3 separate regions of the Homo sapiens genome follow, and all the other regions are linked to region 2. Evidence: fine-mapped expression QTL. A gene starts in region 2. Each other region holds a variant in brackets. All regions are shown on one strand. Distances are between the middles of the regions. Region 1 overlaps NEK11 (NIMA related kinase 11). Region 2 holds the start of NEK11 (NIMA related kinase 11). Region 3 overlaps ATP2C1 (ATPase secretory pathway Ca2+ transporting 1).

The links.
Region 1: its variant is fine-mapped to the expression of NEK11 in whole blood (INTERVAL, PIP above 0.99).
Region 3: its variant is fine-mapped to the expression of NEK11 in Th2 cells (Schmiedel 2018, PIP 0.95).

What each region holds. Positions count from the first base shown.
Region 1 is chr3:131,082,317-131,090,507 of GRCh38, forward strand. The region is part of intron 4 of NEK11 (NIMA related kinase 11); the gene reads left to right. Among named protein-coding and RNA genes, the nearest start is that of NEK11, 60 kb to the left of the region's middle. The variant G/A (reference allele first, on the strand shown) is at 4,841.
Region 2 is chr3:131,022,261-131,030,451 of GRCh38, forward strand. NEK11 (NIMA related kinase 11) reads left to right here and starts at 4,617. Exons shown (of 18, transcript NM_024800.5): 1 at 4,617-4,746; 2 at 5,670-5,742; 3 at 7,353-7,618. The coding sequence starts at 7,449. It overlaps ASTE1 (asteroid structure-specific endonuclease 1), which reads right to left and starts at 4,565. Exons shown (of 6, transcript NM_014065.4): 1 at 4,247-4,565; 2 at 3,214-3,334; 3 at 1,745-3,071. The coding sequence starts at 3,046. RefSeq lists enhancers at 4,217-4,456, 4,597-4,656, 4,737-4,926.
Region 3 is chr3:130,901,547-130,909,737 of GRCh38, forward strand. The region is part of intron 2 of ATP2C1 (ATPase secretory pathway Ca2+ transporting 1); the gene reads left to right. Among named protein-coding and RNA genes, the nearest start is that of ATP2C1, 12 kb to the left of the region's middle. The variant G/GT (reference allele first, on the strand shown) is at 5,129.

The DNA of each region.
Region 1 (8,191 bases), 60 kb after region 2:
ATAAACTGTGTTATTTTAGAAACAACTGACTCATACTGCTTATAACTATTACTGCTACCTCTATTGCTGCTTTTAGGACATTGACTTTTTCAAAGACTCTTTCCATGTCTTAGAATATTTTAAACTGTAGTCAGCACTATTTCACAGAACTTTCTGTGCTGATGGAAATGGGCTATAGTTGTGCTGTCTAATATAGTAGTCGCTAGTCATATACATGGCTCTTTAGCACTTGCTGTGCGGATAGTGCAGTTGAGGGCCTGGATGTTAAATTTTATTTAAATTTAGTTAGTTTAAATTTAAATAACCATATGTGGCTCCTCGCTACCGTATTAGACATACATAGTATATGTTGCTATAACTTTCTTTCCCTGTATTAATTGAAAAAATTTATAATTTTAATGTAATTTTAAACTACCAGAAATGTTACAAGAGTAACACAATGAACTTCCATATGCCCTTTATCCAGATTCCCAAATTGTTATTTTTCCACATTTGCTTTATCTTTCTACCTACATTTTTTAATGAACCATTTGAGAATAAGTTTCAGACATGATGCTCCTTTGTCCTAAATATAATACAGCTGTGAGTATTTTCTAAGACCAAGGACATTCTTTTATGTAACCATAGTACAGTAATCAAAATCAGGAAATCAACAGTGATACAATGCTAGTATGAAACCCAGTGGTTCTCAAAGTGTGACCCCAGACCAGTATCATCAGCATCACTTGGGAACTTGCTAGAAATACAAATTCTTTGCCTCTACCCCAGCCAGCTGCATTGAATCAGAAATTCTGGGGGTGGGGTTCTGGCAATCTGTGTTTTGACAAGCCTGCCAAATGAGCCCAAAGCATACTGAATTTCGAGAATCACCCATCTAATTCACAGTCTATATTGTCTGAATTACATTCTTAGAAGGGACAGTTCTATAAGATTTTTGTTGTTGTTGCAGAGGATCTCATCCGGAATCATCTGTGTTGATTTTTAAATGATGGGTGGTTTCAGTGGGCTGAGCTGCTCTCCCGGGAGGGGCTGTTGCCATGGTGATGGCTGCTGGCAGTGCTGAGAGACAGCTGTGGGGCCGCCTGGGCTCTGTGTGCCACTGAGCTGGCAGGTTGCCACTTCCCTGGACTCCTGAGGAGTGACTTGCACAGATTGCTCCGTTCTTGTTAACAGAGATATTTCTCATCATCAGACCCAAATTTACTCTTAACTGGCACAGGGCTGGTGTTATCCTTTTTATTAAGGTAAAATAATAGTATAGGAAATGGCAGGTGACCAAAATTGCACCTCATAGAAAAATGCTATCACTACCATTGAAATGGCTTATCTCTTTATCTCCAGGTTCCCTCTTCTGTAATTTAATTTGGGGCCTTTCAAGACTGAAATATATAAATGCATTAGTGAGGCTTCTGCATCTACTACCTAACCCTTTGGACACATACATCAGATTATGAGTGTAAAACAGCAGACAACTGAACTCTCATAATTTCTGGTCAAGATTTAACCAAATCTTTGATGGGGAATAGTTCCAAAACTACCAGAATGGCAGAATATTTCAAATATTGGTGTCTTCTATTTTCCTCCATGTAGGAAGGAAATGGAACTACTGCCCATCCTCCACAGTTTCACACCTTTTCATCTTTGCTTAGGCCATATCCTCTGAGAATGCCCTTCCTCCTAGTCCCACATCTTCAAATCTTACCCTGACTCCCAGGCCCAGCTTAAATGCCACCTCCTCTCTCATAATCAAAGTTTCCAATAAACAAGGTTCCTTTCCCATAAACAAAGCCTCTCATAAACTCGTGGCTAGAAATCACTCCCCACCCCAATCCCAATCCCCTCAACTCTCACAGAATCTTTATCTCTCATGGTACAAAGCACAGTTTACATCATATGAGCCATGTCAGATTCTCAGCATGTGGGATTGATCTTTTTCTGATTCATTTTTCTATCACATCGTGGACCCACATAGTGAACCACAAAGAAGTTAGCACTCAAGATATTTTTTGATGTATTCTTTACCTCTTGGTTCCAGCTGCCTCCCACCTGATTTCTGTCAAACACTAATGGTAATGATAAAATATTGAATCCTTCTACCTGTTGTATATGTTAAAAGTATTTTGTCCTACCTTACTGTGCTGATATACCTAACAATGTGCTGCACTGGAGACCTGTGAGATACTGCCTGAAAGTCTTCCATTTGGGTGAAGACAAGGCATCTCCAGAAACCTAGGCATTAAATTAGTAGACACACTAGAGAATGGGTGAGATCACATATCTTCAGGAGAGGGTGGTGGTAGTGGTTGTGGTGGAGAGAACATATGATAGGGAAAAAGGCAGGAAATGTTGGACTTCTCTATTTTCTGCTTGGTGACATTAACATAGGTAAATAAAAATTTTATCAATGTAGTACTAGTTCTCAACATTGGCTGCATCTTAGAATCACCTGAAGAGCTATCAAAAATCCTGAGGCCTGAGGCCCACCTCTGGAAAGTCTGATTTAATTGATCCTCGGAAATGGCCCAGGCATCAGGGTTTTGAGAGTTCTCCAGGTGATTCTAAAATGCAGCCAGGGCTGAGAATGGCAAAATAAATAATTTTAAAAATTCAAAAGGAGAGAATAGTTAGTGTGGAAATAGACAAATAGTCATAAAGGAAAAATTTGTCATTATTGGTGGAGCACTAAGCAAAGATGAGGCCCAGAGCTGAGAACAAGAGAGTCTGGCCCTGTAGTGAGTGTAGTTTTATGATCAAGCCATTTAGCCTGTTGCTCTTATTCACGAAAATTGCACAACTTGTTCTCCTTGCTTCCCAGGCAACCTTCTGATCCTAATTTAGCTTTCCATATATGTCTCCTCTAATAGGAAAAAATATGCTGGCTAACCTGAGATGAGTTCCCTATTGCCTTGGCAGTTTTAGCTCTCATTGTGTATGAATACGTTGGCAATCTGGATTATTTATTGATGCCTTATGAACTTGAAGTTCACAATGGCAATTGTAATCAAGGGACTTTCCAAAAGCCATTACTGAGCCCCAGATCTGTGTCAGATACAATTATAGTCATTGTGTGGCATAACAGAGATAATATGATAATATTTAATGAATTTTCAGGTAGGATTAATGAGTCATTTATATCAGTTGCTAAAATACAAGGGGGAGTGTGGTATGTGTTATGGGAAGGGTATGGTTAAAGTGCTGTGGGGGTAATAGGAGAGAGAAATGACTTCTGACCATGGGAACCATGAAGGGGCTAGCATTCTATTTGAGTTCGCAGTACGGGAAAGATTAGGCCAAGAAGAATAGAGCAAGGACATTTCAGCTAAATGGAATGATGTGATAAAAGGCTCAGAGGTAGAAAAGCATGGGATGTGATTTAGGAACCCAGTACTTCACCTTTAATTGTAATATGTTTGCAGTTAAATACATTCCCTAATTTTAACAACTTATATAATCATAGTATAATTATCAAAACTAGGAAAATTAATATTTTACTAGTTTTCCCCTTTATGCCTTTGGTCTATTCTAGGATCCAATCCAGGATTCTACATTGCATTTAGTTCTATTTCTTTAGTCTCCTCTAATCTGTGACAATTTCCCTTTCCTGCCTTGTTTTTTATGAATTTGACACTTTTGATGGGTAACTGGCAAGCTATTTTGTAGAATGTCTCTCAGTTTGGGTTTGTCTAATGTTTTATCACGATTAGATTGAGGTTACATATTCTTGGCAAGACTACTACAATAGTAGTATTGTATTCTTCTCAGTACATCATATTAAGGGGTACCAGCTGTATCTTATTACTGATGATGTTAACTTTGATCACTTGGTTAAGGTTCTGTCTTGTGGGGTTTTTCACTGTAAAGTTACTATTTTTTCCCTTTGAAATTGATAAATATCCTGGGTAAGATAGTTTGAGAGTTTTCTATTAATAATAGCCTGTTTCTTTTCAAATCTTCACTCATTAATTTTAGTCTCTTTCAGTGAAGTTGCCTGTGGCGATTCTTACTCTCTATTCTTTACCTAATTGTGATTATATATTTCTCTCATTCTTTCTGTATTTACTAATTGGTATTCCACTGTAAGGAAGAGCTGCTGCTTCTCCTCCATCCATGTATTTTTTCAGTTATTTATTTATATTAGTATGAACTCATGGATTTTAAAATATTATATGGGTTACACCCAGTACCGTCACTGTTTATTTTGTTGCTCAAATTGTTCCAACTTTGGCTAATGGGGTTCCTTCAGATTGGCTCCTGTGTCTTTTTAACATGCCCCTATCCTTTTTTGAGGAGAAGTAAATTCTTGCTTATTAATTCCATTTTACAGATGAAGAAACAGGACCCCAGAAAGTGGAGTGATTTTCTGACTGTTAAATCCAGGGCAGAACTAGGACCAGGGGTATTGGGATAGATGCTCCTTTTCTTGGCTTATTCTCAATTATTTTCAGTGTCTTTATCCATCTCTATTTCTATAATACATATACATATTCACATAAACTATTTGTACACAAATGCAAATTTTAATGTGATGATATGATTATTTTCTCTCAATGGAAGACTAGATAAGGTTTTAAATAGTGGGAAGTGTGTAGACTTTGGCATCTCCTATTCAAATCTTTGTCCATTTCCTTCAGCAAATTATTTCATTTCTCTGACCCGTTTTTCTTAAGAGAGTATAACATATATTTTGTTTTTATAGGGATTTGAAATAATGAATGTTGAAAAAGTGACTATCAGAGCTTTTCTCCTAGTAGATTTTCAATAATGAAAGTTATTATAATTGTTCGTTATTTCACTGTTACTCACCCCCCTTTCCTCCCTCCGGCTGTTTTCTAGAAGTAAA[G/A]CTAGTTTTTACCTCTGAGATTTTGTCGTGCAGCCTTTAGTATGAGGATTCATGCCAAAAGGAAGAAATATGCAAATTCTTTTTTTTTTTTTTTTTTTTTTTGAGACAGAGTCTCACCTCATTGCCAGGCTGGAGTGCAATGAATGGCACAATCTCAGCTCACTGCAACCTCTGCCTCCCAGGTTCAAGCAATTCTCCTGCCTCAGCCTCCCGGGTAGCTGTGACTACTGGCGCGTGCCACCACGCCCAGCTAATTTTTGTATTTTTAGTAAAGATGGGGTTTCTCCATGTTGGCCAGGATGTTCTCCATCTCCTGACCTTGTGATCCGCCCACGTCAGCCTCCCAAAGTGCTGGGATGACAGGCGTGAGCCACCGTGCCCGGCCGCAAATTCTTAACCACTAATAGGCCTGCTAGTAACTTTGAGGCAAGTACTTTCCGAACTGATTGTACTATAAAACGGAACATTTGAAATTTCCTCATATGTTTCTTTTTTATGCAAAAGTATTTAAACAAACCAAGTAAGCGGGTTGAGTTTTGCAATCTTGAATCTCTAGTGCGTGTCAATAGACTATTAGAAGTAAATTTGGCAATGACGTGCAGCCACCAGGCTTACTAGTTCTCAGAGGGTCCTTGTAGAACTTCATATTGGGTGTGTTGTGTCTAGTATTAGAAACAAATCCTTTTCTGTGCTTCAGAACAACTGCTTATAGTCCTGAAGCCTGTTTGGGACCACCACCCCCCAGAATTGGTTATTTATAGATGAGGAACACCCCTGGAATTTGACCATTGTGACATTGATTGGTGATCATCCTTCCTACTGTGAACTCAAATCAGGCATCCACACATTGGGGCTGTCCACACCTCAGGACTGTCTTCAGTGGTTTGCATTGCTGGGATTGCTGCTGATTGAAGGAACTAAGCATTGTTTTCAGAGTGGTGGGTCCCATCGGGGCCCTCTGATTTTCCTGGGCAGCTCCATCTAGGAGTAGGTAGGCCTCCCTGAATTTATCCTGTGTCAATTCTATGGGTCTAGATTTTGTCCAGTTGGGGAAGGCTGTAAATAATACGAGTGTCTAATGTTTTTATATACCTAAACTGATCCATTTGTGATTTTTATAAGTATCAAAATTAAAGTCATTTGGTTTGTTCCATTTACTTTCTTTCTTAAACTATGAAATATTTTGACCTTTTAATGAAAAACAATAAAAAATAAGACCACTGATTTTTACCTAAAATTGTTAAATCTAACAATTGAAAAGCAAGACTAGTTTCATTGAAAAGAAATGCACTAATGCACTAATAGAAAGCAATCTGCAAACCCAGTAGAGTTTATGACATTTGGGGTAAGGCTTTAGCTGTCATATGAATTTATATAAATACAAGTGTTTAAAAATAGAATCACACTAATTTATTTCAAATGGTTTTTTTTTAAAAAACCCTGTGCTTTATAGATAAAAGCATTATTTCACATTATTTCATATCACCTAAGAATAAGTTCTGCCATTTCTTATTCATCTACATTTACCTCAGCAAAAAGAACACTATCTCTAAAAGAATTTGAAAAAAATACTAACTAAACTCAAGATGTTCATTTATATTATTAGAAATGAAAATCATAATACTGCATGGCATTCTTCAGTACCTATTTAGAAGCTGGTTTTTTTCTTGTTTTGCTTTTAAGAGCATAATGTGGCTTGACATTTCCCCCACGTTTTATGCAGTCTCTTAAAGTGCACTTCCAAAATTCTAGGAAAATGTCCTTGGGTTGTACAATATAATGACAAAGGATCTCCTCCCTCACTGCCTTTACCTCCATTTATTGGTATTCTCCTAAGTAATGAAACAGAGTTTCAAAAACATGTTATTGTAAAATGACTCTTATTCAGCCCTGCCTTTCTCAAGTACATCTTTTGCCTTTGGAGTTGTTCAAATTTTAGACAAAATGTTTCCACTGACAGGCTAAATATTAAGTACATGGCCTGTTTATATTATTGCCTAGCATCATGCCTCAAAGTTTGTTCCATGGACCACCTGTCCTAGAGTCACGAAGGATGCTTGTTGAAAATACAGATTCCTTGGGTCTATGTGGATTTACTGAGTTGGAGTTATTGTTGCTAATGTCTAGGGATATGCATTTTAAACAAGCAACTTGGAAGATTCTGATGTATAAAATTTGAGGTCCACTGGAAGGATGCTTATTTAATGGAGATATGGTAGGCTATGAAGAACAGCATTTAAAATGTCAATCCAGTGAATTAATAAGGGAAGCTTTTTCATTATTTTATTTTGTTTTATTTTGCGATGGAGTCTTGCTCTATTGCCCAGTCTTGAGGGCAGTGATGGGATCTTGGCTCACTGTAACCTCTGCCTCCTAGGTTCAAGTGATCCTCCTACTTCAGCCTCCCGAGTAGCTGGGATTACAGGCATGTGCCACCACGCCTGGCTAATTTTTGTGTTTTTAGTAGAGACGGGGTTTCATCATGTTGGCCAGGCTGGTCTCGAACTCCTGACCTCAAGTGATCTGCCTGCCTTGGCCTCCGAAAGTGCTGGGATTACGGGCATGAGCCACTGCACCCAATCTGCATTTACTGAGTCAGAGTTATTGATGATAATGATAATGATAGTTGATGATAATAGGGATATGCATTTTAAACAAGCAACTTGGAAGATTTTGATGCATAATATTTGAGGTCCACTGGAAGAATGCTTATTTAATGGAGATATGGTAGGGTGTGAAGGAAGAGCATTTTAAGTTGTCAGTCCAGCGAATTAATAACGGAAGCTTTTTCATTTTAAAATAAAAAGCAGGACAGAATAATTTTTGAAGTTCCTTTTAGCCTTAAACATTGCAGGGGTTTTTTTGTTTTTGTTTTTGTTTTAAATTCAGGCTTCTGAGAATGCTCTTCTTTTGTCTTTTAAGGTTGTAAGTGCTTTGATTGCCAATGTTAATACAAGGATTAATTTTTAAAATCAAATCCTTTTAGGATTTAAAATTTGATAATAACGATCAAAGGTGGGGTTAAGAACACTGAATTTGGGTTGTTCTTCATTTCTTTAAAGCCTCGACATTTCAAAGGCAATCTGTCATTGGCTAACTGGGATGGTGAAAGGAGGAGATACTATTAATCCATCAAATGTTACAGTTTGGGTTACAGATTTTCAAAACCTTAGAAGTTAACATCAAGTCTTTTATTGCAACCTTCAAGGGATAATCTTAGTGAAGGAAAACATTTTTTGATAGCTGTATAGACTTAGGGCAATATTAATTTTGGGTCAGTTAAAGTCAATACATTTTTCATGAAAGTTATTTTAGCAATAAAAGTCACTATTAAATATTTCTCAAGGACAA
Region 2 (8,191 bases):
GAAACCTTTTCTTCTCCTTTATCTAACTGAGGTATAATTCATATGTCATAAAAGTCATCCTTTTAAAGCATACAATTCAGTGGGTTTAGTGTATATATATTTTTAGAGACAGGGTTTTGCTCAACAGGGAGCACAATCATAGCTCACTACAGGCTTGACCTCCTGGGCTCGAGCAATCCTCCAACCTCAGCCTCTTGAGTAGCTGTACCACCATGCCTGGCAAAAAATTTTTTTTTTTTTTTTTAGTAGAGACAGTCTTGTTGTGTTGCCCAGGCTGGTCTTGAACTACTGGCCTCAAGTGATCCTCCCACTTTGGCCTTCCAAAGTGCTGGGCTTACAGGCATGAGCCATCTTGCCTTGGTTTAGTATATTTATAAACTTGTGCAGCCATCACTAATTCCAAAACATTTTCTTCACCCCCAACCAAAGAAACCCTGGGGGTTTAACAGTCACTCGCCAATGCCAAGAAGGCTCTTGGACTCACTGCCCAATGCCAAGAAGGCTCTTGCACTCATTCACTATGACATTCATCTCCTCCTGTCTGAGATGTGACTGAAGAGGAGGCTAAGAGGCTAGTTCCTGGTCAGCTGTATAGCCCAGGGAATGGCACTACTGATATTTTGGGCTAGAGATTCTTTGTTATGGGACACTTTCCTGTGCACTGTAAGACTTACAGGTTGTAAAATTTAGCAGCATCTTTGGCCTCTCCCCACTAGATACCGATAGCAACCACTACCCCTTCTACTCCCTAGGTAGGGACAACAAAAATGTCTCCAGGCATTGCCAGATGTCCTCTGGGGGACAAAATCACCAATGGTGATAAAGCTTTGGTGTAGACTGATAACAGTGCTGGGAGAACTCTGACAGAAAAGGAAGACCTGACTTAAATCCACTGGGAAGCTGTGGTTGCCGTCCTACATCCTTAAGTAGACTGGTGCCACGTGTGGTCTGTGAGTTTTGTGAGACTGAATATTTCATTGGATCTAAGAAGATCCCCTAATGGGCATTGCAATTGTTTTTTTTTTAAGTTATCTCTATTTAATGTCTAAATCTAGTTCTTTTATCAGCATAGTTTCATATCTATTTGTAATTTTAAATATATATGTAATATAAAAAGACAACACTGGGATCCATGAGAATTTTTTTCTCCTTGAAAAGGTGGTCTGGGTGTTACTCAGGTTTAAGCAACACTAAGTTAGACTAAGAGTCATGTTTTCTGTATCAAACTAGGCAAATAACCATAATGACACAAAAACCTATTTTAAAAAAGGTATTCATTAATAAAAGTTAAAAAATTAGACCTTAGCATCAGTACTAACCTTATCTGAAATCCGATGTAGTCTGAGATGTTGTGCCTATGATTAGTGTCTATACACTTTTTTTGCAGTTGTGAATTTTTTTCCTTTTTTTTTCAGCCACGTAACCCATTCTATTGATAGCTAGTATTAACCTGGTAGTAATAACAATATAGTAGTAATAACTGTGACGATAACACAGACTACTGAAGTACAGTGGAAATGGTAGATTTAGAGCTAAAAGAGCTAGGTTTGAGTCCTAGCACTGACACTTTCTGGCTAAGACATTACCTAGTTCACTCAAGTTCTAGATTTCTTAGCTACGACATGAGGGCAAGATAGCACTCAACCTCATCAGTTTGTTATAGTAAGTGAACTAATATAGAAGACAGCACTTTGTATCCTGTAAAGTACTTTACAAAAATTTCATTAGTATTACAAATACTTACCTCAGTCAATCTGCTTAAGTCAGAATGATCCTTGGCCAGTTCTACTGCATCAATGATTGAGGTTCTGATATTTTTATTAATCCTTTCCACTTCACTGAAAGCTAGAGGCTGAGGAGGCAATGCATTCCAGGATGTCTTGTCCAGATGTGGTGAGGCATTTAAAAGAAGCCCATAGATGATTTGCCTGATGGGCTGAGATATTCTGTGGGCATTTGGTTGCTGCATGTTTTCCACCTGTGTGGGAAGAATGGTCCGTCTTAGGACCAAAGCATCACTGATGAAAGGAGATAGCTGGCCTTTAGCTAAAGCCACTAATACCCATTCTGGTAAACCAAGATTCAAGGCATCTGGACAGACATAAGTACCACACTGGAAGAAGTCCTGTAGCTTCACCTGGGACTGTTGGTATTCTTCCATGGAACAGCAGAGAAGTTCCTTAACATTTTCTCGATCCTTTTTTGGGAGGTATTTCAGAACATTATCTAGTGCTTCGGTAGGGTTGGCAAAATGAGACAACCAATTCAGAAGTCCCAGGATTCGGTGGTGTCTCCTCCCTTTAGAACTGGTAGCTCCAAGAGGAAGACGCGCTTTACTTAAGAATGTCTCCATGATGGGTAGATTAACATGGTCATTTCCACATAGCACCGCAAAGAGAGGTAGTAGAGCTTTATTCATATTGCTGAAGTGATGGCAGAATGCATCAAGGGAAAAGCATTTGGCAGGGATATAGTTTTGTGTGCCCTTAATAGTGTTCATATTTCTCCACTGAAAGCTATTCAATGGGCAAAACCCAGTTTTCAGGTCAAAAATGCAAAAGTCACTATCTGATGATAACACAGGGCAATTCCAATGGTTAGCAAGTGTCATAATGTCCCGATCTGCTTCTGAAAAGCACTGGACAAAACACACCCGCAGCTTGATCAAAACCTGTATGAATACTTCCCGGATGAGTAAGGGACATACGTACCCACTCCCACCAACAGAAAGGGAATGGGCCATCTGGATCTTCTCTCTAGCTCTATCCTTTAAAGTTGTAAGCTTTTTATCTGAAATGTCACATCCTCCATCTAATACAACATATGGGCATATATTACAAGCAAACAGTGATTCAAAGAATTTTTGTACAACATCTGCAAAAGAATCATAGTCCCCTCCATACCGGAGATCCAAGTTTGAACTGAAGCAAAGACGGTGGAAAAGAGCATAACCATCAATGACAATTTTTGTGTCCCGCAACTTCAAATCAGTGAAGAACTCATTACTATGATCTTCCACAAAACTCATTAGTCCTCGGATACCCATGATGACAGTCTAAAGAATTAATCGCCTGTTTAAAACAACAGAAAACATTTTCAATTGATGCTAGTTATGGGGCACCAAGTCATTGCTTCCAGCACCATTAAATCAATAGCAAATGTTATGAAGTGCTCTTTAGATAGAACATAGATATCAACATCATAAATTCTTACCTAGATCCTCAAGCAATGTTAGCTGTGCTTTTTCATTCTCCTTTGCTTTCTGATACAAGGCACAAATTCAATGGTTTCATGGGTTGTAATCTTTGGATGGTGACAGAGGCTGCTGCTAATTCTAAAGAAAAATCAGTTGAAGTCCATTACTGACACACCAGTATAGAAGTTCTGTGAACTTTGATTCTTAAGTGGTAATAGTCAACATCTTACAGCACAGAGTATTTGTTTTGTGGGGTCAAAGTAAAAAGTCCTAAGCTAAAAAAAAGATATCATATTCATCTCATAATCACAAAGCATTTGGGCTTCAGTAAAGTAAGGTGTGTAGGACCTATGATAAGGATCAAGTTTTTCTTTTGTATTGACAATCAGTCACGGAACTTCTTTCAGGCTTTGGATTTGTGGGCCCTTCTTAATTGGCATAGTTTTTGGTATAAGGAAAACTGCTTCATGCCTCTAGGAACCCCTCTATCCAGTTACACCCCTAACCACGAGCTCTTTTCATCATCTTATTTTGCATATCTGGCCCAGCTACGCTTCCTCACCTGGCTAACTTAACTCGCAGGATCAGAATTGATGGTTTTTCTTTTGACACCTCGGGCTTCAATATGGCACAGCACGGTACTGTTACTATTACTTAAAATCGTGACATTTTGTCAGTCATGGATTTTTTTTGCTATAATTTTGATTTTTAGAGATTGCATTAAAACTTACCTTGATTACTGAATTTTATTGGCATCCATTTACATTTTACACTTATCTCACCCTAGTTCCAGCCCTGTCAGTATCTCAGAACCTTATCCTGTATAGTACTTATTTCTTTGCAAGATAGTTTTGTAAAGCGTCCATAAGCAGAGACTGTGTCAAGGCGTCCTACGCAAATTACAGGACCTTGCACAGACAGTTGCATAGAGCTGCATAGGGGAAAGGCGGGCAAAAGGTCTGACCTAAGTCTTCAAACACAGGCCTTCATACACCGTGCCACCTCGGCCCTCACAACCCGCCGCCCGGACCTGCAGCAGAGCCCACCTACTCTGTCCTCCCAGAGGAGTAGCTCCTCCATCAGAAGCCCGCTAGAGCCCAGCGAGGACTGGCTCCTGCACGTGAGAGTCCAATCTCAAGAGCGGGAATCGGAAGTCTCCCGGTGTGACGTCTCTGGGAAGTACAGTTCCGTGATGCCGGTGGCGCCAGACTGAGCCAAGGAGCAGGTGTTCTCGGGCCCAGAGGCGCTAAGTAGCTAAAGAGGGCTGGGACGTACGTTCCGAAATGGCTGCTGTCAGGCTAGGAAAGCTTGGCCCGCCGGTCCTCCTCTGCTTTCTCCGCCTACTTGGGTCGGCGAACACTTCCGCCTTGGTGCCGCCTCGCCCCGACTTCCCAGTATGCCCCGCGCCGTCTCCCTGGCCACGGTTCCAAACAGCCGTGGCCCGCGGTGTCTGGCGCTCGGTGGGTGTGGTTGCCCCTAGTTTGAGGCCTGCCCGATTACCCGCAAGACTTGGGCAGCCCCGGGCGCCGCTCCGACCACGACAGGGAAAGGTAAAGCGAACTGTCCTCCTTGGGGCTAGCCAGGCTCCCCTGCGAGGGGGAAGGTAATGGTTTCAAGCTGCCCGGGCTGGGTTCCGAATCTCTAGGACGCCATGGCTGCGATCTCCTCGCTTTCCTGGACATCTTACCTCCGGATGTACTCCAGTCTCAGTGCCCCTCAATAAACGTTAACCTGCTTTGCCAAAATGTAAATGTTTAAAAAGGTGAAGAAGCAAGGAATTGTTCGTTTTACCTTAAGGTTAAGATTTACTTTAAAGGTAGATTTGTGCTGTAGCAGAAACTGGTGACAAATTGCCTTCCTCTTATTACCTGGGAAGATAACTACTGGTTTTCAACTTGTGATAAATACTCCTTCCGTTGTCTTTTGCCCCCAGCCAGATCTGTTTCACCGAGAACGGGTAGTTTGCACAAGGTAGTAACTTTCTCCAAGTTCCCATCTAGCTTTCTTAACTAACCTTTTTTCTCTCCTTTGGGCGGCAGTTGATCTGCTGGACACTTACTTGCCTTAACAAGGTTTGTTAAACACCTAGTATATGCCAGGAGGTATGCCAGGGATTGGGGATGCAGAAATAAAGAAGATGTGTTCGCAGTGCCCAAGTTCACTCAAACCTCGAGGGGGAGCGTGTTGTCAAGTGAACAGATAGTTCTAGAATCTAGACAATGCGACACATTCTTGGGTAGGTTTATGGTTGCGCAGAGGAGACTAATGGAATGGATGACCTAAAAGTGGACTGGGATGGGGGTGGCAGGGCTGAGTCTGTGAGGGTGGGCGGGAGGGAACCTAGTCCCAGAGTCTTCTGCAGCCTGGACCAGACTACTTAAGCACTGCTGGGTTTAGACTGTCCTTTAAAATAAGAGCCGCTAGAAGTGAACTTCTCATTCTGTCCGTCCCTAATTCTGTCCTTCTCTAAAAGGAACCTTAATCTCATCTTTAAAATAAGGAGAATTACTGAGTGACCTGAAGGACCCTTTTCAGCTGGAAAGTCTGTAAGTCCATATATTTATTTGAACAGCTTAGTATGGCCAGACGGCATCACTTTTATGACAGTGAAGGGGAAGTAAAAACAAAAGGTATATTTAGAGGCCTGCTCTGTAGTTGTTTTTCCAGCAGATTTTACTAACGTGTCTTTGGAAGGGAAAAGAAAAAGCTGGTAACTAATCTCACTGGTATTAGGTACAACTTAACTGATTCATACATTTTAAGAAGGAAAATGTTGTAAATGGGCATTTACTTATGTTCTGTTTTGAGGATTTTTGTGGTTAATTGCCCTAGTAGTTTTTGTGGTTGACGGACACCACCACGTAAAGCCCATTGACCATCCTTAAAAACTAGGTTTTTGTCTCATAGCTTTGGAATTGTTGAATATGAAAACCTAACTTCAAGGTGTAGGCAGTTTTCAATTTAAAATGTTATTTCTATATAGATTTAAAACAAAAGCACACTTTTCTTGATAACTAACAAAACATTTAACATTCTGATGAAATAAAAGTGATTTTACTTTGTACCTACTCATATGAAACAGTCCTGCCTTTCTTTTTTTTGTTTTTGTTTTTGTTTTTGTTTTTGTTGAGATGGAGTCTTACTCTGTCGCCCAGGCTGGAGTGCAGTGGCGAGATCTCACTGCAAGCTCCGCCTCCTGGGTTCACGCTATTCTCCTGCCTCAGCCTCCCGAGTAGCTGGGACTGCAGGCGCCCGCTACAATGCCCGGCTAATTTTTTTGTATTAGACGGGGTTTCACCGTGTTAGCCAGGATGGTCTCGATCTCCTGACCTCGTGATCCGCCCGCCTTGGCCTCCCAAAGTGCTGGTACTACAGGCGTGAGCCACTGCGCCCGGCCTAAACAGTCCTGCCTTTCATAACTGCCACGTCTCATAGCTCCCTGAGGAATTACAGATTTATCTGTAGCATTTATATTCCACTGACATTAAATGGGATTTTAGGTTTGAATTGAATTTGTAACTCTTCCTGTTTTTAATCCAGAGAGATTATACACAATGTGTACAATAGGAACTTCAGAAACTAGAATTTGCTGAGCATGGGAAAAAATTCTCAATCCTTATCCTTCTTTGCATCTGTCCTAATAAATACAAAAACTGTGGTTTAACATCTACAGAAAAAAATAAATCTAAAGGAAACAGCACCTGCTAATTCCTTGTTTAATCCTAACTCACTCTTTGTAAACCAAAGTAAATATAAGGTGAGAAGAGGGCATTACAAAAAGGTTGATGCAGATGTATAGATTTAAGGAGGTGATAATGTTCTTGTATTTGGATTCTTTTATAAGTAGTTGGGGAGTATAAATCTTAAATAAATGAAGAGATTGCTCATTGTAAAACAGATGTACATCCCAGAAATTTGTGGAAAGTTGGCTATAATTCACTTCTGCCAAATTTCAATGTACAAAGGGAGGCTCTTCCTGTGAAAGATTGCCTTCTGGAATTTGTGGTATCTCTACCTTTTAACATTTTTTTTCAAGTTGTTAACCAATATGGTGTCAGTCTGCTGATCAAGGTGCAGATATCACTGCACTTAACACTTTTTGTTAGACATCGTTTAGCAACCTTTAGACCTGATCTTTTAACTTTTCATCTTTAAGGAACTGACCAACACTGGATGAATTTGACCATTTCTTAGGAGACTGGAATGTTAAGTTTCTATAAATGAATGAACCAGTTCTCTCTTGTTTGGAGCAATGCTGAAATTCCAAGAGGCAGCTAAGTGTGTGAGTGGATCAACAGCCATTTCCACTTATCCAAAGACCTTGATTGCAAGAAGATACGTGCTTCAACAAAAACTTGGCAGTGGAAGTTTTGGAACTGTCTATCTGGTTTCAGACAAGAAAGCCAAACGAGGAGAGGAATTGTAAGTAAAAATGCTTCCTATGAATCTTGAGTAGGCTGCTTTTTGTTTGCAGGTCTTAGCTGATTAGGAACATGGAGCAGGCCAGGTATGGTGGCTCATGCCTGTAATCCCAGCACTGTGGGTGGCCAAGGTTGGCAGATCACTTGAGGCGAGGAGTTCAAGACCAGCCTGGCCAACATGGCAAAACCCTGTCTCTACTAAAAATACAAAAATTAGCCAGGCAGGGTGGTACATGCCTGTGATCTCAGCTACTTGGAGGTTGAGGCACAAGAATTGCTTAAACCCAGGAGGTGGAGGTTGCAGTGAGCCGAGATCATGCCACTGCCCTCCAGCCTGGGCAACAGAGCAAGACTGACAAAAAAAAAAAAAGAACATGGAGTAATGTCCACTTTGCTCTTTATACCAAAGCAAGTATTTCATAAATATAGGTAAGCTCCCTAATTAATCTTTCATATTAGGTTTAAAGGCATTTCAGCAGGTGAATAAAGTATCCAAATGACCTAAAGAAGGGAGCTAGAAATGGGATAGATTATGTGAAAATAAGATGTTTGGGCATGCCACAGTCTCAGTGAC
Region 3 (8,191 bases), 120 kb before region 2:
TAGTTGAATCAGACATGACTGCAAGATGTCATTTGGGTCAGTGAAGGTGCCATTGATTGTGGTTGAAGGAGTGAGCCGATTTAGGGGCTGGCTGAAGGGAATATATAGGTCAGACTGTCATGATGTGAGGCTCATATAGCTATGCATGGAGAGAGGTGTTAAATCAAGCACCAGGATTCAAAGTGAGCTCTTGAAGGCAGAGACCTCAATTTGTCCTTTATTCATCTTGAACAGACTCTGGGACGTACCTACTGTCAATTGAATGAAAATGCTGGCTTCTTCCTTCTAAGTGGTTCTCATCTCAGGATTGTTTTGCCCCCGGGGGACATTTGGCAATGTTTAGAGAAATGCTGGGTTGTCACAACTCAAAGTATGCTACTGGCATCCAGTGTGTAGAGACCAGGGATGCTGGTAAGCATGCTACAATCCGTAAGACAGCATCTTCTACCTCCCCCCGCCACCCTCAAAATTTTTTAGCCCCAGATGTCAATGGTGCCAAGATTGAGAAACACTGTTCTAACAAACGGCAAGGAAGTTGACTCCTCTAAGCCTTGGTTTCCTCACTTGTAAAGAGATTATGACTACTTCAGGTTTGTTAGAATTAGACCAGGCAGGGTGTGTACAAGTGCCTGGCATGAAAGAGCCTCTCAGCAAATCCTAATTTCCCTTACCTTACTTGATGAATAGATTTAGGGGAGTTACTTTTGGTCTTTTAACTGCTAATTTCAAGGCTTCACGTTTTTTTTTTTTGTTTTTTTTTTTTTTTTTTTTTTTTTCTGAGAGGTGAGTGGGATGCCTAGGAAACATAGAGTAGCTTTTATAATCTTAATGCTTTTCTCATGGTTTTATCAAATTATGATTTTGATTATACTTTGGTTTGGGTTTGTACTATTTCAGGATTCAGTATTTAGTGTTCACCTAGCAGTAGACAATGAAGTTAAACCCTTAGTGTAGATCAATGAAGTTAAGCCCTTAAATTTTACTTTTTAGCCTGTAAATACATTTTATGTATTATTTATTGCTCACAGAACTGTTATTGTTTGGAAGCAATTTTACTATTCTTTGAAATCAAGACCAAAATGTACTGAATTTTATTTCTCATGGAAAATGCTAGACCTCCTATGTCTATTGCCTTTTTCCTTTTTATCCATTTATTCTAACTAGACCCCCCCCGAAGTCAGAACTCTTCCTTAGATTTCCTTTTTAGGGTCTTCATTAGGTGGCTTTCTTTTGCTTGTCGGGTGTCTTTTTACTTTATTTTGTAAGGTGTTGAATATTCCCTTTATTTTGTAAGGTGTTGAATGTTTCAGTGGTGTTAGGGACAGGACCACCGATATTTTCATCTCTAATACCAATCCCTTAGTGATCTATTCCAGTCATAGCCTCAGTGTTTAAAGTCTCCTTACATGTACATAGTTGTGTGGCATTCTCATTTTTAGGGAGTCACTGGAATTCTTTGCTGCTATTTCTTTCCTTTTAGGAAAAAAACCGGTTTACTCTTACTATACATTATTTTCTCCATCTATAGAATGGAATTACTGTAGGTAAAAGTCCTTGAGTTCGGTAAACTATGTATTGGACTTACTAATGTACGTTTTATTAATTGCAGGTGGAATTTAGAAATAACCTGCCTGTTTTTCATCTTAAACTAAGATTATTTAAATATTCCATTCATTAATTAGTTGGTTAGAAAAATTAGCTTTTGAGGAACACCACTTAAACATGGAAAATAATAACAGAGTACATTTTGTGACAGCAAATAAATTATCGGTTAACTTAACCCTATAGGATTCAAAGTTGGTAGCTTTAAATGATATTAAATTGTATTTGACTGTCAACTGCTTTTAAAGGCTTACGTGGCTCCCCATTGTACCTGTAGTTATTTAGGTCTGGAAGCACAGGGTGTTAAGAATGCCACCATAATGTCTTTTCATAAGGGTTTGGTTTGTCATAGCCTGTAAAATTAGGTTCACCAGTTAGCTGCTTTATGAAATGAATGTCATTGGTCATGGTGGGGGAGGTATTAGGAGAAGGTATAAAGGAATCTAAAAAAACTTTCTTTCTTTCTCTCCCTCCCTCCCTTCTTTCCTTCTGCCCCTTCCTCCCCCCTTTCCTTTCCTTTTTCCTCTTTCCCCTTTCCCATTTCCCCTTTCCCCTTTCCTTTCCTTTCCTTTCCTTTCCTTTCCTTTCCATCTTCTGTATTGCTAGTAAAATAATTGTTGCTCACTGAAGGCTTTAAAAAACACTGGTTGCATGCTTAATATAGGATGGCAACAAAATGGACGGGTTTAAAAAATATGTAGATGGTATGATACCCCTTTCCTCCATCCTTGTACCAAATTTCTTTCAAACCTAGAATAATTTATACAAACAGATGTATCAGTAGATGGAGTATTATGCCCACTTTTTAATTTAATGATCAAAAAATGCCAAATTCTTCCCAGAGTGGCAGTATAATTCAGATGTAGTTAACTGTTGGATGCAAATTCAATTATGGTAGAAAGATTTACTTTACTTTGAGAGGTTTTTCTAAAATCTTCTAAAATTATGTTGATTTTTAAAATTTGAAATAACTTTAGACTTACATAAAAGGTATAAAAATAGTACAAAGAGGTCCTGGATATCTTTTGCCCAGTTACTCCTAATGTTAACATCTTATATAACCATAGTATAATTATTAAAACCAGGACATTCACATTTATAAACTATCCTTTTTCTAGTTCAGGATCCAATTTGGGATCCTACCTTGCATTTAGTTATCATCATGTTAGTCTCCTCCCATCTGTTAAGCTTTTCAGTCTTTTTTTTCTCTCATCTTTTATAAATGTTACTGACACTTTTGAAGAGTACTGTTAGTTATTTTTTAGAATGTTTCTCAATATGGGGTTGTCAGATCTTCACCCGTGATTAGCATGTCTTATGATGGGTGAAGTTAATGTGATCACTTGGTTAAGGCTGTGTCTGCCAGATTTCTTCATTGTAAAGTTACTGCTTTTTCCTTTGTAATAATAAATGTTCATTTTAACCTTGTAGTTGTATAATAATTAGTAATTCCTTTGTAATTAATACCTTCCTCTAGTGGGGAGGTACTGCAAATATACTGTGTCCCATCATACTTATCATGGGCCAGTTTTGCAATATCCTGTGTTCCATCATACTTTACATGGGCAAGTTTTGCTATCTATCAATGGTTCTTAACTGGCAGCAGTTATTACTGCTTTGGTCTTTGCTTAATGGCGAGTTTTCTATTTCACTCATTCTTACTATATTTGGAATTCTACAATTAAGGAAGTACTGTCCTCTTTACTTATTAATTATCCAATTAATTTATTTACATGGCTTTGTGGATATTTTGCCTTATGGGTTAAAATCCAGTAATTGTTGCTCAAGTCATTCTCGCTTTGGTTATTGAGGGCACTTGAAAATTTGTTCCTGTGTCTTTTCTACAATACCCTCTCTCATTTTGTGAGCACTAATTTACTTTCTGGTATCACATGATGTTCTGGGTGTATCTTGTATTTTTCCTGCTTGCACCAGCCATGGAATCAACCATTTTTCCAGGGAGCTGAGTTCATTTTACTAGAGAATGATATCTAGAAACCAAGATCTGGGTGCCAGGTGTGCTCCATGCTACTGGGTGTCATTGCTTCTAGGCTCTCTTAGTAGATAGAGCTAGCAGTGTATATGTTTGGTAACATGTATGAACACATATGTTTTTATTTTCTTATCTATCCATCTATGTATATAAATAAAAAACTGCCAGTGATGCTGCCAGTTCTGTTCTTCCACCATAGGGTCCATTTTGGTCTTTTTTCCTGTTCAGCCCTTTTCTCTTTCTTTGTTACTTCCTTCTCCAAAGGTGAGAAACTGTTCTCAACCACAGTATATTGACTTACTTGTTTCATCCGAGTACACACAAACAAAAGTAGTTTTAGAATTAGTGACCTATTCATTCCCTGGTGAGAAACACAGTTTTAAACTAGAGTACAATATTTGTCTTTAACTTTATGGTATACAGGCAAATTCTGTTTTCAGAAGTTACTTGGGTTCTTTTCATCCCTGCCTAAGGGTTATGTTAGTCACTTGTAATAAAATTAGGTTCACTTGTTATTGTTTGTATGCTGTTTTAAGTTCCTCCTACATCCTGTTTCATCATAGCACAGTATCCCTCTCCCATTTATTTATGATAAAGATGTGTTCTTAAAAGGACTGGATTTGCTTAAGGTTGGGTACAGCTGTAATTGCTTTGCCAGACAGCAGTTAAAGGACATGTGCTTTGGCAATCATTCTCTTGGGCTTGCTTGCCTGGTTCCTTAGTTTCAGCTCTCATTTCTACATCGTTTACACTTGGGAATTGATATCAGCTGTGGCCCCATAACTGTCAGTGCTTGAAATCATGCCCATCGACTAAATCTTATTTGTTCTGTATGCACAGTTTTAGACCCGGAGCCACCTACAGTATGAATACTAATTCTCTCATAGCTGTGGTAAATCATGAAGTATTTTGTAGACCCTGTCCTTTACTGGGTTTTTCTTTTTCAAGATAGAATCACTTACCACAAAATTTGTCATTTTAAAGTGTATAATTCAGTGGTTTTTAGTATAGTCACAAAATTGTATATTGATATAATTCTAGAACATTTTTATCACCCCAGAAAGAAACCCCTTACCCATTAGCAGTCACTTCCCATTCTCCCCTTTCGCTAGCCCCTGGTAACCACTAATCTACTTTGTCTTTATGGATTTGCCTGTTCTGGGTATTTCATATAAATTGAATCATACAATATGTGACCTTTTATGTCTGGCTTCTAGCACGTGTTAGTACTTCATTTCTTTTTGCGATGAAATAATATTCCATTGTATGGATATACACATTTTGTTTATTCATCAGTTTCTACTTTTTGTCAAAAAATAACACTATTGTGAGCATTCATGTATGGGTTTTTGTGTAAACATGTTTTCAGTTTTTTCAGGTGTATACTTAGGAGTAGAAGTGCTGGGTCATGGTAATTCTATCTTTAATTTATTGAGTAACTGCCATAGTGGTTGAACCATTTTTTCATTCCCACTAGCAGTGTATGAGGCTTTCTTTTAATTAATTTCTCCACATCCTCTCCAACATTTTGCT[G/GT]TTTTTTTTTTTTTTTTCCATTGCATCCTAGGGGGTATGAAGTGGTTTCACATTGTAGTTTTGATTTGCGTTTCCCAAATGACTAATGATGTGTCAAGGATCTTTTGCATGGATTCTTCATGCAAAAGAATGAAGGTGGACTCTTATCTCACAGCATATGCAAAAATCATTTCTGCACTCTGACTTCTAATCTGTTGGTTTATAAGTCTTTGCAGATCCAAGTACCACAATGTTTTGGTTACTGTAGATTTTGCGATAAGTTAGTTTTGCAACTAGGAAGTGTGATGTGCTTATTGGTTATTTGTATATCTTTGGAGAAATGTCTATTCAAATCTTTTGACCATTTTGTAATTTGGTTATTTACTTTTTTGTTGAGTTGTAAGAGTTCTTTATATATATGTGTGTACACACACACACACACACACACATACGTTTATTCTGGATACTGGATAGGAATATATTCTATACTTGTACCAGTATACAAAGATGTTTACCTAAGAGTGTTCACTGCAGCAATGTTTATAAGATAATTATCAGAGATATGGTTTGTAAATATTTCTCCCATTCTGTGGATTACCTGTTCACTTTCTGAATGGTATCCTCTACATCAGAAACTTTTAAAATTGTGATGAAGTCCAATTTATATATGTGTTTCTTTTATTGTTTGTGCTTTATATATCTAGGAAACCATTGCCTGATTCAATGTGATGAAGATTATAAGAATTTTATAGTTTAACTCTCACGCTTGATCCATTTTGAGTTCATTTTTGCATATGATGTGACATAAGGGCCCACCTTCATTCTTTTGCATAGAATATCCAGTTATCCCAATACTGTTTGTTAAAAAGACTATTCTTTTTCCATTGAATGTCTTGGCACCCTTGTCAAAAATCAATTGACCAGAAATTATGGGTTTATTTCTAGACTCTGAATTCTATTCTGTTGGTTTATATGTCTTTGCTGATGTAAGTACCATAATGTTTTGATTACTGTAGGTTTTGTAGTAAGTTAATTTTGAAACTGGAAGTGTGAGACCTTTAACAGTGTCTGCCTTTCTTTTTTTTTTTTTTCAGATTGTTTTGTCTATTCTGGATCCCTTGCATTTCCATATGAATTTTAGAATCAGTTTGTCCATTTCTGTTAAAAAGGCAGTTGGAATTTTCATAAGCATTGCCTTGAATTGTCCTTTACTTTGAGAATATAATATTCTTACTTAGGTACAAACATAAGACTTTTTGAGTACTATGTTTGGGTGTGACCTTATTCTAGGTAACAAGCATTTCACAGAAATAGAAGGCCAAAAGGTACATGAAAAGATGTTCAACCTCAGTCATGAAGAAATGCAAATTAAAAACAAAATTATAATTTTTCACTTGTCAGATTGGCAAAGATTAGAGTGTAGTGATGACTAGTCTTGGCTAGACTGTGGGGAAAATAGAAGCTTCTGAGTTTGAAGTTTTTGACACAGTCCCTTTGGAGATCAGTAGCAGTAGCTATCAGAATAAAAAATATGAACAACCAAAGTTTCACTTTCAGAAATGTATTCTGTACCTGTACTTGCACAAATATACCAAGAAGTTTGTACAGGATGTTTACTGCAGCAACATTTGTAATACCAAAAGACAGGAGTCAGCCTAAATATCATCAAGAGGACTAGTTAAAATTGAAGTACTGCATACAATGAAATGCCCTGTGAGCCACTGAAAAGAATGAGGCAGGTTAGTATGTAAGGTGACATGGAGTCCAAGATGTATTGAATGACAAAATTTGTTATTGTGTGGTTCTATTAGAAATTAAAAAAAAAAAACACCAGAAATACTTGTATACACACCTGTATAGAAAATGGCTGGCAGTATACACAGAAATAGTTAACAGAGATTACTTCTGGGCAGTAGAACTGGAAATCTCATTAAATCCTTTCTCATTACTTGACTTTTTTTAAAACAATGAGCAGGTTTTTGTTTTCTGAAAAATCATTAAGAATGACTCAGTAGTGCAAGTAAAATTAAAATTAATACTACTCTTTAGGAATAAAATATTTGTTTTTTTCTGTCAGTTTGATTGTTTTATATATAATATCTGTTGGTCTCTAGAGCAGTTTGATTGTTTTGTATATAATCCCTGTTGGTATCCAGAGGTAAATGCATTTTATTGTGATTTTTATTGCTGTGTGGAAAATGGATTAGAATTAGTTCTTGGGTACAAATATTTAATAGTATTTGGAACCATATTTTTCATTTCTACATATTGTAAGTATGGGAGAAAAATAAGATTTATCTTTTAAGAGTTGTGATTGTGCTAGTTTTTAATTTATCAAATGAAGAATATTTAAGAATATTTAATTCTTTAAGTACAAAGAATATTTAAGAATACTTAAGAGCATTGAAGCCTGATTATGCCACTGTTCTTTGGGTTCATGCTCTGGAACTTAAGGTTCAGTGAAGAAGGTAACCATTTCATAGTATCTCCCTTAACAAAGGTTACTGATACATTTTCAGAAACCTTAGTACCACAGGCAGTAAGGAGGCAGTGAGATCCCTCTGGATTTTGCCAGACCATTCCTAGAATTTTTAAGGTGAGGGGACCAATTTCCCACCCCATATAGAAATGGCACCAACATCTCTCCTAGAAACTTCCTGGTGATTGGAAACTTTTTATCTGTTGATGCTGGTTCTGTCTTTAGGGAGAATGTCATGTTTCATGTAACATATCTTAAAATATTTGAAGATACCTGTCATATCCTTTATTTAGAAATCTTTATTGAAATCCAATTAATGGTCAGGTACTGCCCTTCATACTTCTCTAGGCCGAATATTCCTAATTCCTTCCACTGATCATCTTAAGACCTCATTTCCAGAAATGTCACCATAGTATGCCATGCTTGGTAGCAGGCTCTAATGATGCCCTAAACTGAATATAGACTTCTCAAGGTATGGTTGGATTGTTGTGAAATAGTCTAGGCTCATTGACTCGCTTGGACTAAAAAGCTATCTTTCTCATAATGCAGTTTAGGATAATGTTTACCTTTTTAGCAACAGGTTTACACTGAGAATGCTTTTACAG